Linked DNA regions of Homo sapiens. The protein of the gene in region 3 purifies or fractionates together with the protein of the main gene of each other region. This does not show direct contact. Each region holds a gene or a part of one and is shown on either strand. Other genes may lie near its edges.

Evidence for each region.
Region 1: the proteins of NIFK (region 3) and DDX24 purify together in Homo sapiens (affinity purification with mass spectrometry; 5 studies listed by BioGRID and IntAct, with this or other methods). This does not show direct contact.
Region 2: the proteins of NIFK (region 3) and RRS1 purify together in Homo sapiens (affinity purification with mass spectrometry; 5 studies listed by BioGRID and IntAct, with this or other methods). This does not show direct contact.

What each region holds. Positions count from the first base shown.
Region 1 is NC_000014.9:94,079,147-94,082,746, reverse strand, and holds the start of DDX24 (ATP-dependent RNA helicase DDX24), read left to right. Parts: upstream 1-1,544; 5' UTR 1,545-1,628; intron 1,629-2,999; 5' UTR 3,000-3,004; coding exon 3,005-3,600. UniProt on the Homo sapiens protein: ATP-dependent RNA helicase that plays a role in various aspects of RNA metabolism including pre-mRNA splicing and is thereby involved in different biological processes such as cell cycle regulation or innate immunity.
Region 2 is NC_000008.11:66,427,126-66,430,725, forward strand, and holds the start of RRS1 (ribosome biogenesis regulatory protein homolog), read left to right. Parts: upstream 1-1,888; 5' UTR 1,889-2,006; coding exon 2,007-3,104; 3' UTR 3,105-3,600. UniProt on the Homo sapiens protein: Involved in ribosomal large subunit assembly. May regulate the localization of the 5S RNP/5S ribonucleoprotein particle to the nucleolus.
Region 3 is NC_000002.12:121,734,818-121,738,762, forward strand, and holds the start of NIFK (MKI67 FHA domain-interacting nucleolar phosphoprotein), read right to left. Parts: upstream 2,059-3,945; 5' UTR 2,034-2,058; coding exon 1,929-2,033; intron 934-1,928; coding exon 796-933; intron 1-795.

The DNA.
Region 1 (3,600 bases), on a different chromosome or scaffold from region 3:
CAGTGGGCTTAAAATATTCAGTAAACCATGCTATGAACAGTTGTGCTGTCATCCAGGCTTTGTTGTTCTACTTACAGAGCACAGGCAGATTATATTTAGCGTAATTCTTAAGAGACCTAAGATTTTTATAATAGAATGGTAAACAAGCACTGGCTTCAATCCAAAGTCACTAGCTGCATTAGCCTCTAACAAAAGAGTGAGCTTGGCCTTTGAGGCCAGACATTGACCTCTCTAGCTATGAAAGTCCTTGATGGCGTCTTCTTCCAATAGAAGGCTGTTTTGTCTACATTGACTACTTGCTGTTCAGTGGCCACCTTCATCAACGATCTTACCTAGATCTTGGGGATAACTTGCTGCAGCTTCTCCATCAGCATTTGCTGCCTCATCTTACACTTTCATGTTCTGGAGACGGCTTCTTTCCTTAAACCTCATGAAATAATCTCTTCTAGCTTCAAACTTCTATAGCTTCCTCACCTCTCTCAGTCATCATAGAATAGAAGAGAATCAGGGCCTTGCTTTGGATTCGGTTTTGGGTTTAGGGGATGCTGTAGCCGGTTTTATTTTCTATCCAAACCACTAAAATTTTCTCCAAATCAGCAATAAACTGTTTCGCTTTCATATCATTCATGTGTTCATTAGAGTAAAATGTTTAATTTCCTTCAGTAACTTTTCCTTTGCATTCACAAACTGGCTAACTTTTTGGTGCAAACTTTCAGCCTAGCTTTCAGCCTATCTTGCCTTTTGACATCCCTTCCTCACTAAGCTTAACCATTTCTAGCTTTTGAGTTAAAGTGAGAGATGTGCGACTCTTTCTTTCACTTGAACACTTAGAGGCCCATTGTAGGGTTATTAATTGACCTAATTTCAACACTGTTGTGTCTCAGGGAATAGAGACCCAAGGAAAGGGAGAGAGAAGGAAGAACGGCCTGTCAGTGGATTAGTCTGAACACACACAACATTTATCAATTACGTTTGTATCTTATATGGGCACAGCTCATGGCGCCCCAAAACAATTACAATACAAGGAACACTCATCACACGTCACCCTTGTAGCAGAGCACATCTCCCTATGATCTAGGTACGAGCATTGTACCTAGGATGGACGCGTTCGTCCTCTTACCTTCGGGAACGCCCTACTCTGTCTACGGAGTAAAGTACTTAATAAACTTGCTTTTGCTTTGCTATGCGGACTCACCCTGAATTCTTTCCTGTGCAAGATCCAAGAACCCTCTCTTGGGGTCTGGATCGAGACCCCTTTCCGGTAACGAAACTACACTAAGAATACAAGAAAACTTACGTTACTGTGCGGGAGCTGACAAAGTCTCTCGCCGGAGGGAGCACACAGAATTTCACCTTCTCCGGCCTTTTCCCAAGCTGGCAGGAGTAAAGCTGTAAGAGGAGGTGCCAGCGCCCCAAGCCAGCTCTCCCGCCGGCACTGCTGCGGTCCGCGAGGCAGCCAATCAGGTAGCTGAGTTTGCCATAGGGGCGGGACTTCCTCCCCAGCGCGCACGAGTACGTGCGTGGAGGTCCCGCCCCGGAACTGCAGTTGCTGCTGCAGCTGAGGTACAGCGGCGGTTTCTGAGGTTCTTCACTCGCGACTGACGGAGCTGCGGTGGCGTCTCCACACGGTGAGTACCAAAACGAGCGGGGTTGGAGCCGACTCTGGAGAGGGGCTGAGGCCAGGAACCCGGGTTCCTATCGCGGGTCGCTCTGGGCCGGTGGGTTCCCGGGTCCAGAGAGGGCGGCCGCCGGCCCAAGCCGTCCAACCGAGCTGCGTGCCACGGTCCCCGCGCCTTGGGCTCCTTGTCCGGTCATCAGAGCCTGACGGCCTTGGCTTCTCGGCTTCTCGGTTTCTCGGTTTCGTGCGCGCGTTCGTGCCTGAGACAAAGCGAGAGGGCCGCGCGGGACCGGCGTCACGAGGAGACAGAGGCCCTTCTACTCTGCCTGGCGCTCTCCGTGTCCTCGCCCGGTTCGCGTGGCACCCCTCGCCCTCTCCTTGTTGAACCCCGCGTGTTTCTTTGTGTTTTTTTTTGTTTGTTTTTTGTTTTTTTGCCGTGGCGCAGCGGGTCCGGCGGGCACTGTGTGCGAACGTGCTCTCCTCGCCGGGCGCCATGCTCAGCGGTTTTTTTTGACGTGCGTCACTTTTTCGTAGTGGCGTATAAGGATTCTGTGGGACAGATGTCCTCGTTTTTCCCATTGTGCAGACTGGGAAATAAGAGACTCAGAGATTAATACGTCCACCGCAGAGCCACAGCTGACAAGTGGTGGATCTGGATTTGAACCAAAGTTTACCTTGGTCTTTTTCACGGAATCTGTTATCTTTCTTGGCCTTTCTGAAAAGGAAAAACCTGGATCGAGTTCCACCCAAACGAGTTGGGCCTAAATGGCCATTAAGCCACTTAAAATATGATGAAGAAACTGGATGGGTTTTAAGACGCTTGGCAAAGGAAAGGATGGTGGAGCAGGCATTTGCTCTCTCAGGCAAGGCTTGAGAAGGAAGCAAGCGCAGTACGCTTTTAATAAAGCTCACCCCTCCTGCCCCCACAAGAAAAACCCCTGAGATTCTTACTCTGCCTTCAGAACGACTTAGGTGTGGCAGGTTTCATCCTCCGTGCTTTACATAATTTTCTTTATTTACATAAAATGTACAACTTAGATATTGTTAGGTACCCTCCCCCCTTTTTATAGATGAGAGCACTGAAGTTCAGAGAGGAGTGGGTGGCACTATCCAAGGTCACACAGGCAGTAAGTGTTGGATTTGGAATTCAAACCAGGTCTAGCTCATATGTCTTTGTTCCATCACATGTGTACCCTGTGTTCCAGGCAAAGCTGTCTGTTCTGTGGTATTCTTTGTTCTTCTCTAGGTGGGAGCAACTGTGTGATAGCCATCTTTGTATCCTCAGTTCTTTGTAGGGCCTAGTTGCTTAGAAAATATTTGTTACATCAGAACCCTCTGCTTCTCAGACACCAACCTAATAGAACATGTATCTCCTTTTCAGCAACCATGAAGTTGAAGGACACAAAATCAAGGCCAAAGCAGTCAAGCTGTGGCAAATTTCAGACAAAGGGAATCAAAGTTGTGGGAAAATGGAAGGAAGTGAAGATTGACCCAAATATGTTTGCAGATGGACAGATGGATGACTTGGTGTGCTTTGAGGAATTGACAGATTACCAGTTGGTCTCCCCTGCCAAGAATCCCTCCAGTCTCTTCTCAAAGGAAGCACCCAAGAGAAAGGCACAAGCTGTTTCAGAAGAAGAGGAGGAGGAGGAGGGAAAGTCTAGCTCACCAAAGAAAAAGATCAAGTTGAAGAAAAGTAAAAATGTAGCAACTGAAGGAACCAGTACCCAGAAAGAATTTGAAGTGAAAGATCCTGAGCTGGAGGCCCAGGGAGATGACATGGTTTGTGATGATCCGGAGGCTGGGGAGATGACATCAGAAAACCTGGTCCAAACTGCTCCAAAAAAGAAGAAAAATAAAGGGAAAAAAGGGTTGGAGCCTTCTCAGAGCACTGCTGCCAAGGTGCCCAAAAAAGCGAAGACATGGATTCCTGAAGTTCATGATCAGAAAGCAGATGTGTCAGCTTGGAAGGACCTGTTTGT
Region 2 (3,600 bases), on a different chromosome or scaffold from region 3:
GGCAAATCCCAAAGGTTTAAGGCTCAAGGCAGTTAGCTAATATGGTCTTTGACCTAGCCTTGGCTACATGGGATGACTGATGTTAAAGCCTTGATGCTGAATGTTAAAGTAGGTTCAAGGGGAAAAAAAAAACAGCAAATTCTAAAATGCTTCTGGATGAGAAAGGCTAGCACAATGCTGAAACTAAACTGAGTCTATTTGCTAATTGCTATTAAGTTAATTTCATTGGTTAATTCTCCAGCATAACCCCCTCTAGGATAAACCTGGCCCCCAGTGAAAGGAAGATAAACCCTGTAAACCACGCAATCAACAGTGCCTCTGATACTCAAATGTACATCCTAGTCACCTACAGATCTTATTAAAATAAAGGTTCTGATAAATTACATCTAGAGTGAGGCCTGACGTTCTGCATTTCCAACAAGCTCCCAGGGGATATTATGCTGCTGGTATGCAGACCACACTTTAATGAGTATCAAGAGCTTGGACGACATTGCAGAGAATAGATCTACAGACTTAAAACCAGAGTTAAGATATCTCTTGTTCTTATATTCCCTAACTGCATAACTTTAGATAAGTCATTTCACCTCTCTGAGCCCTCCTTGTTTCATCTGTGAAAATAATATAGTTAATACAATAATTAATAACATAGTTAATACTAATAGCTAACACATACTGAGTTCTTACCATGTAGCAGTAACTAATGTTTTATGTTTGTCAATTTATAAATAAGGCTTAGATCAAACATCCTCTCCAAGTAATGGTGACCTGATACCTGATTGTAGGCCGTTTGACTCATACTTAACACCATGTAGCACTTACCTCCCAGAGCCTATGAAAATGAAATAATAATCGGTATTTGGCTAATTTGTACTGAGTACTCATACGCTCCAGGCCCTCGTCTAACCCTCCCTTGGACGATATTAACTCATTTATCTTATAACCACCCTAGGAAGTATTATTATCATTATCTCGCAGGCCTTAAAACGGCCTCAACAAGTAAAATTGCTGAAGGACCAACAGTGGCACAGTCAGGATTGGAACCCAGGCAGTGTAACTGCAGAGCGTGGCTTAGTTTCAGCACTGTACTAGATTAATTGAACTAGACTAGGTTCTGTAACTGCAGAATCCCGGATCTCCGAGTCAGCTAGCTCACTAGGGTCGGTGCACACCCGCGCCCACTCGGGGTGGCTTCATTGCCAGAGCCACTGACTCCCAAAACAAAACGAATCTTCTACAATTAGCTCTATGTGTATCTTTGGGATGTTATCTTTCTCGGGCCACAACTAGGAACCCTGAAAGCCGACTATGACTCCAGTGAAACTATTTGGCCCTAAGAAGGGTGATTGTCTAAACATCTTCACAACGGATTTACACTGAAATTGTAACACGCACTTGATTGGAACCCCACACCACAGGCAGTCCCAGGAATTTGTACCCGCCCCGGTCCCGGACCGCGCCCCTGGACAAACCCTCCGGCCCGCCCCTCCGGATTGAGCCCCAAGACTGTCCCCGGACCACCATCCTAAGACCACTCCCTGAACTGCCCCCCCCAAGACCGCCCCCTAGATCGCCCCCCGGGACCGCCCTCTCTAGACCGCCTGCGAGACTGTCCCCGGACCGCCCCCTGGACCACCCCCTAGGCGGCCCCCCGAGCTGTCCCTGGACCGCCCTCTAGACCGCCTCCCGCCCCCTGCATCCTGGGAATCGTAGTCCCAATCCTGCTCTGGAACTAGCAGTGCGGCCTGCTCGGGCCAGCTCCGCCTCTATCTGGCGCCAGCCTAAAGGTCCCGCTTCTAATCCCATCATCTCTCCATACCGCCCTCTGCCGGCCTTTCCTCTGGTCGCCCGGATTGCGAGCCGCTTCCGGACGCTCCGGAAGCGAACCTTTCTTTTCCGGATTGGGCATCCCGGCATCTGCACGTGGTTATGCTGCCGGAGTTTGGGCCGCCACTGTAGGAAAAGTAACTTCAGCTGCAGCCCCAAAGCGAGTGAGCCGAGCCGGAGCCATGGAGGGCCAGAGCGTGGAGGAGCTGCTCGCAAAGGCAGAGCAGGACGAGGCAGAGAAGTTGCAACGCATCACGGTGCACAAGGAGCTGGAGCTGCAGTTTGACCTGGGCAACCTGCTGGCGTCGGACCGGAACCCCCCGACCGGGCTGCGGTGCGCCGGACCCACGCCGGAGGCCGAGCTACAGGCCCTGGCGCGGGACAACACGCAACTGCTCATCAACCAGCTGTGGCAGCTGCCCACGGAGCGCGTGGAAGAGGCGATAGTGGCGCGGCTGCCGGAGCCCACCACACGCCTGCCGCGAGAGAAGCCTCTGCCCCGACCGCGGCCACTTACACGCTGGCAGCAGTTCGCGCGCCTCAAGGGCATCCGTCCCAAGAAGAAGACCAACCTGGTGTGGGACGAGGTGAGTGGCCAGTGGCGGCGGCGCTGGGGCTACCAGCGCGCCCGGGACGACACCAAAGAATGGCTGATTGAGGTGCCCGGCAATGCCGACCCCTTGGAGGACCAGTTCGCCAAGCGGATTCAGGCCAAGAAGGAAAGGGTGGCCAAGAACGAGCTGAACCGGCTGCGTAACCTGGCCCGCGCGCACAAGATGCAGCTGCCCAGCGCGGCCGGCTTGCACCCTACCGGACACCAGAGTAAGGAGGAGCTGGGCCGCGCCATGCAAGTGGCCAAGGTCTCCACCGCCTCTGTGGGGCGCTTTCAGGAGCGCCTCCCCAAGGAGAAGGTGCCCCGGGGCTCCGGCAAGAAAAGGAAGTTTCAACCCCTTTTCGGGGACTTTGCAGCCGAGAAAAAGAACCAGTTGGAGCTGCTTCGTGTCATGAACAGCAAGAAGCCTCAGCTGGATGTGACTAGGGCCACCAATAAGCAGATGAGGGAGGAGGACCAGGAGGAGGCCGCCAAGAGGAGGAAAATGAGCCAGAAGGGCAAGAGAAAGGGAGGCCGGCAGGGGCCTGGGGGCAAGAGGAAAGGGGGCCCGCCCAGCCAGGGAGGGAAGAGGAAAGGGGGCTTGGGAGGCAAGATGAATTCTGGGCCGCCTGGCTTGGGTGGCAAGAGAAAAGGAGGACAGCGCCCAGGAGGAAAGAGGAGGAAGTAATAGTTTCTAACTGTCGGACCCGTCTGTAAACCAAGGACTATGAATACTAAATGTTAAGTTCTAGGCAATTATACGGGGACTCAGAAGGACCTGGCCGCTGCCTTCATTGAGTTTAAAGGGACAGGATTGCCCTTCCGTCAAGAAAGTATGTAAGTGTTGGACTGCACAAATTAATGTTTTTCCCACAACCGAGACTTTGGAGATTAAGAACTTATTTGAGGATTTAAGAATTAGGGAAATAATTTGGTGGAAACCGGGAATGAGTTCTATTCTTAAACAGCCTTTTTTTTTCTTTTTAATGTTGGATATACGGCGAGGTAGAGTTGGCCATATTTCAGAGACTTAGATTGACGTATATGTTTCTGCATTATTTTTACAACAAGTTTGTGTATCAGAGCGGGAGTGCGGGGGAGGGAAAGAAAACAAACAGTTTCAGAATTGAATAGGCAAGTGACTGTTTTAAAGATTAAGTAATAAAGATGTCTTATCTAGTGTG
Region 3 (3,945 bases):
AATTTAATTCCCTAATTAAAGAAGTTGAAGAGCACTGGGAAGGGTACAAAAGGGACCTCAATTCTACCTACAATCTATCTTTACGACAACTAACAGATGATGGATGTGCACCCTATCCCCCACATGCTAAATCAAATAGGTGTCTATGGCTACAACCAATTAAAGTTTATGTGCGGGGAAAGAAAAGAAAGTGGGTCACTCCTCCACTATTGAAACAAGCTATGTAAAGCGTTTTCTCATTAGAAGGCAGGTATGACACAAATAGTAATTATACTTATATAGTGTTTATTGTGTACCAAGCAATCCTCTAAAGACTTTATATTTAACCTTTGACTAAATACTCCCAGGAAGTTTTACTTATATTTAACAGATCACAACACTGAAACATGGTAAGGTCATATCACTCTAACTAGTAAGGTGTAGAGCCTGACCCCAAACCTCAGCAGTCCAACTCCAGAGTCCTCACCTTTAACTATTCACTATATAAACCTTTGCTATTATAAGGATGCTTGTACCAAAGGCTAACACAAGAAAATGTATAAACCTGGGCCTCATACTAAAGCTCATTTACCAGGACTGTCAATTTAATGTAAGGATTTGGAGAAATGTAAAAAACAAACTTTTACAATAATACTGATTTTGCTCCTGTAGCTGTTTCAGATTCTAAACCTCCTCCACTCTCCTTTTTGGAATGAAATCTGATAAGCAATAATGTATGCGTGAACGTGCTCTTTAATGTCAAGGATAATACACATTTGAAAAACAAAACATTAAATCCAACTGCAAAAATCTTACCCTTTTACTTCTGGACAGCCTGAACCGTGTCACAGTGCCAAACTGGGAGAAATATGAAAAGATCTGGGTTTCGTCAAGTAGGTTAGGTAGGTGGCGCACATAGACTACTCCAGGAGTAAGTTGTTCTTGTTTTTTTCGCTAAAGACGTAAAGACCAGGTAAATTAAATATATAAATAAGAAAATCACATTGTAACAAAACCCCTAGCCCTCGGCCCAAGAACCTATTCTGCATTTCCACTTACCACAGTAGTAATTAAAGAACTGGCTGTTTAGTGTTTCTCTCCCCACAAAGGCCATGGTCAAGCAGTAGTCAACTATCTTTCCAGCCTGGCATCCCAGCACCCAGTATAATATTAGAGCTCAATAACTATGTCAATCAACGGATAAGCAAGGACATCTTTGAACAAGCCATTTTAGATCTTCTGCCCAGAGAACTCTACATAAACGTAGGCTTCAATTTGGTATGCATATTACTGTTTACTCGCACTTCATCGAAAAATTTTCGATACGCTTGTTAACTCTCACGGTACAGATTAGCCTTTCAACGTCTCAGTCATCATAGCCTTACCTCTGTAACAGGAACTTCTAAGTTTTCCTGTGTATTTTATGCTAAAAACCACAGAAAGTATAAGCGATGTCAGGGGCCCTAGTCAGCAAGTGGAACCTGGCAAATACTCTATTTTAATAACTCCCAGATCACCAACCCGGCATACAAACTTCCCGAATGTGTTAAGTCTGGGGCTCCCATTTTTGGGGGAAACGCGGAAGCGTGACAGCTCTAACCCGGAGATAACCTGTGGTATAGGAGCCTATTCCCTCCAGCTGGTTCTTTCTACTGCTTCTGTCACCCCAATACTTCCCCGTTACCCTCCACATGAAGGCTCCAGGGCCTCAGCGGCCAAACCCCTCCATCATTTACCGAACAGCGTAAACCCTTTCGTCTCGGAAACCGTGGCCTGCAAGCTTAAGAGGTCGGTCCCTGATTCGGTCGAATCCACTTGGGAGACCCTGGAGGTAATGAAGGCGAGCACGAAGGCAAGGGGCGCCCGGGCCGGAAACCGTGCAACCCCAGATACCCTCTAGACCCGGTCCATCGCCCCCGCTCGCAGCCTGGGCCAGGGTGCCTGCTCACCTGGGTTATGCGCTTGCGAACCTGCGCCACCTCCTTTTGAAACTCGACATCTTCCTGCGGATTAAGCGACAGGATTGGCCCAGCCGGGCCAGAAAAAGTCGCCATGCCAAAAGCCGCCGACGCTAACCACGCGGCGCTCCCGGAAACGTCGGGCTCCCAGCTCCCCCGAGGCGGAAGTAGAGGCAGGACAGGGGCGGGGCGAAGCGCTAAGGCGAGGCGAGGCGTGGCGAGGGGCGGGGAGGGCCATGAGTCGGGCGCGGGGTTGGAGCAGGAGTTGCCCGGAGAAGCGGGGGCGGGGCACGGGGTGTGGCGAGGCGCGGGGCGGGGCATAAATTGCGCCAGGGGCGAGGGCGGGGCACGAGGTCGTGCCGAGAGACTGGGAGAGGCGTGAGTCGCGCGGAGGCGCGACATGGGGCGTGACGAGGAGCGGAGGGCGGGGCGTGAGTAGCGCCGAGGCGCGGAGGCGGGGCGCAGGGGCGTGCCGAGGCGCGGCAGCGGGGTCTGGGGCTGGGGCTGGGCCGTGGGGAGCTCCCGCACCCTCGGCTGTCGGGGCGCCGGCTGGCTTCGCTTAAGAGTGCCTGAAACAATTACGTTCACGCCTACTTTCAAAAAAGGTCTAAAATAAATTCCAAAACAGTACCTGTGTCCTTGAGATGCTGCTCTCATTCCTCAATTTGCTTATTATTATTATTATTTTTTTTTGAGACAGAGTTTCGCTTTGGTTGCCCAGGCTGGAGTGCAATGGCGCAATCTCGGCTCACTGCAACTTCCAACTTCCGCCTCCCGGGTTCAAGCGATTCTCCTGCCTCAGTCTTCCGAGTAGCTGATTACAGGCGCCCGCCACCACTCCCAGCTTAATTTGTACGTTACCACTCCCAGCTTAATTTGTATGTTTAGTAGAAACGGGGTTTCACCATGTTGGCCAGGCTGGTCTCGAACTCCTGACCTCAGGTGATCCACCCGCCTCAGCCTCCCAAAGTACTGGGATAACAGGCGTGAGCCACCGCGCCCGGCCCTAATTTGGTTATTCTTTCACTCACTTGTGTGTGAGCTCTCCTGTGTGGCCCCGTCCGTCCGCGGCCCTTGGAGAACTTACAGCCTGAGGGCAGCATGGCTGCTTTAAGAGACCAAAGAGGCTTGTGGGGGAGAGGCACACTGGGTGGCGCCGGAGGGTCCCCCTTAGGAGGTGGCGTTAGCACCGAGGCCTGAAGGCTAAAGAGCGGGGTGTGGAGAACCGAGCGCCTGCCGTCCGCTGGACCGGACAGGCCTGCACAGTGTTCCTAGGTCTAGAAAGAAGGACGCGGCAGTGGGGTTGGAGCCCAGCACAGGAGGGAAGAGCTGCGAGGCGGCAGGCTGGAGCCCCATGACTGTGTGTCAAAGTATGAAACTGGGGTTTTGTAAATGCGAGGGGATGGGCGGGTTTAAAGCGAGGCTGTGGCTGTTTGCATCTTTCTTTTCTTTTTTTTTTTTTGAGACGGAGTCTCGTTCTGTCGTCCAGGCTGGAGTGCAGTGGCGCGATTTTGGCTCACTCACTGCAACCTCCGCCTCCTGGGTTCAAGCAATTCTCCTTCCTCAGCCTCCCGACTAGCTGGGACTACAGGTGCACACCACTACTCCCGGCTAATTTTTGTATTTTTAGTAGAAACGAGGTTTCGCCATTTTGGCCAGGCTGGTCGAGAACCCCTGACCTTAAGTGATCTACCCGCCTCGGCCTCCCAAAGTGCTGGGATTACAGGCGTGAGCCACCGCACCCGGCCTGTTTGTACCTTTCAAATACTATTATACTAGTGAGTAACTGAGTGGAGAGGAAGGGTGGGGAGTGGATTGCCGAGGAAGCAGGGAGGTGAGGCGAGAGCGACAGATCAAGCACAGCTGGTGTCAGGGGATAGCTGCGGCCGTGTTCTGGAAGCCGTGAAGGCGGCCCAGGGTGTGTGTGCCCGAAGAGTGGCCTGTGGGCCTGAGGTGGAGGCCCTGGGAGGGAGTGCCAAGCGAGGCCAGCCCACTTCCTCTGACAGAC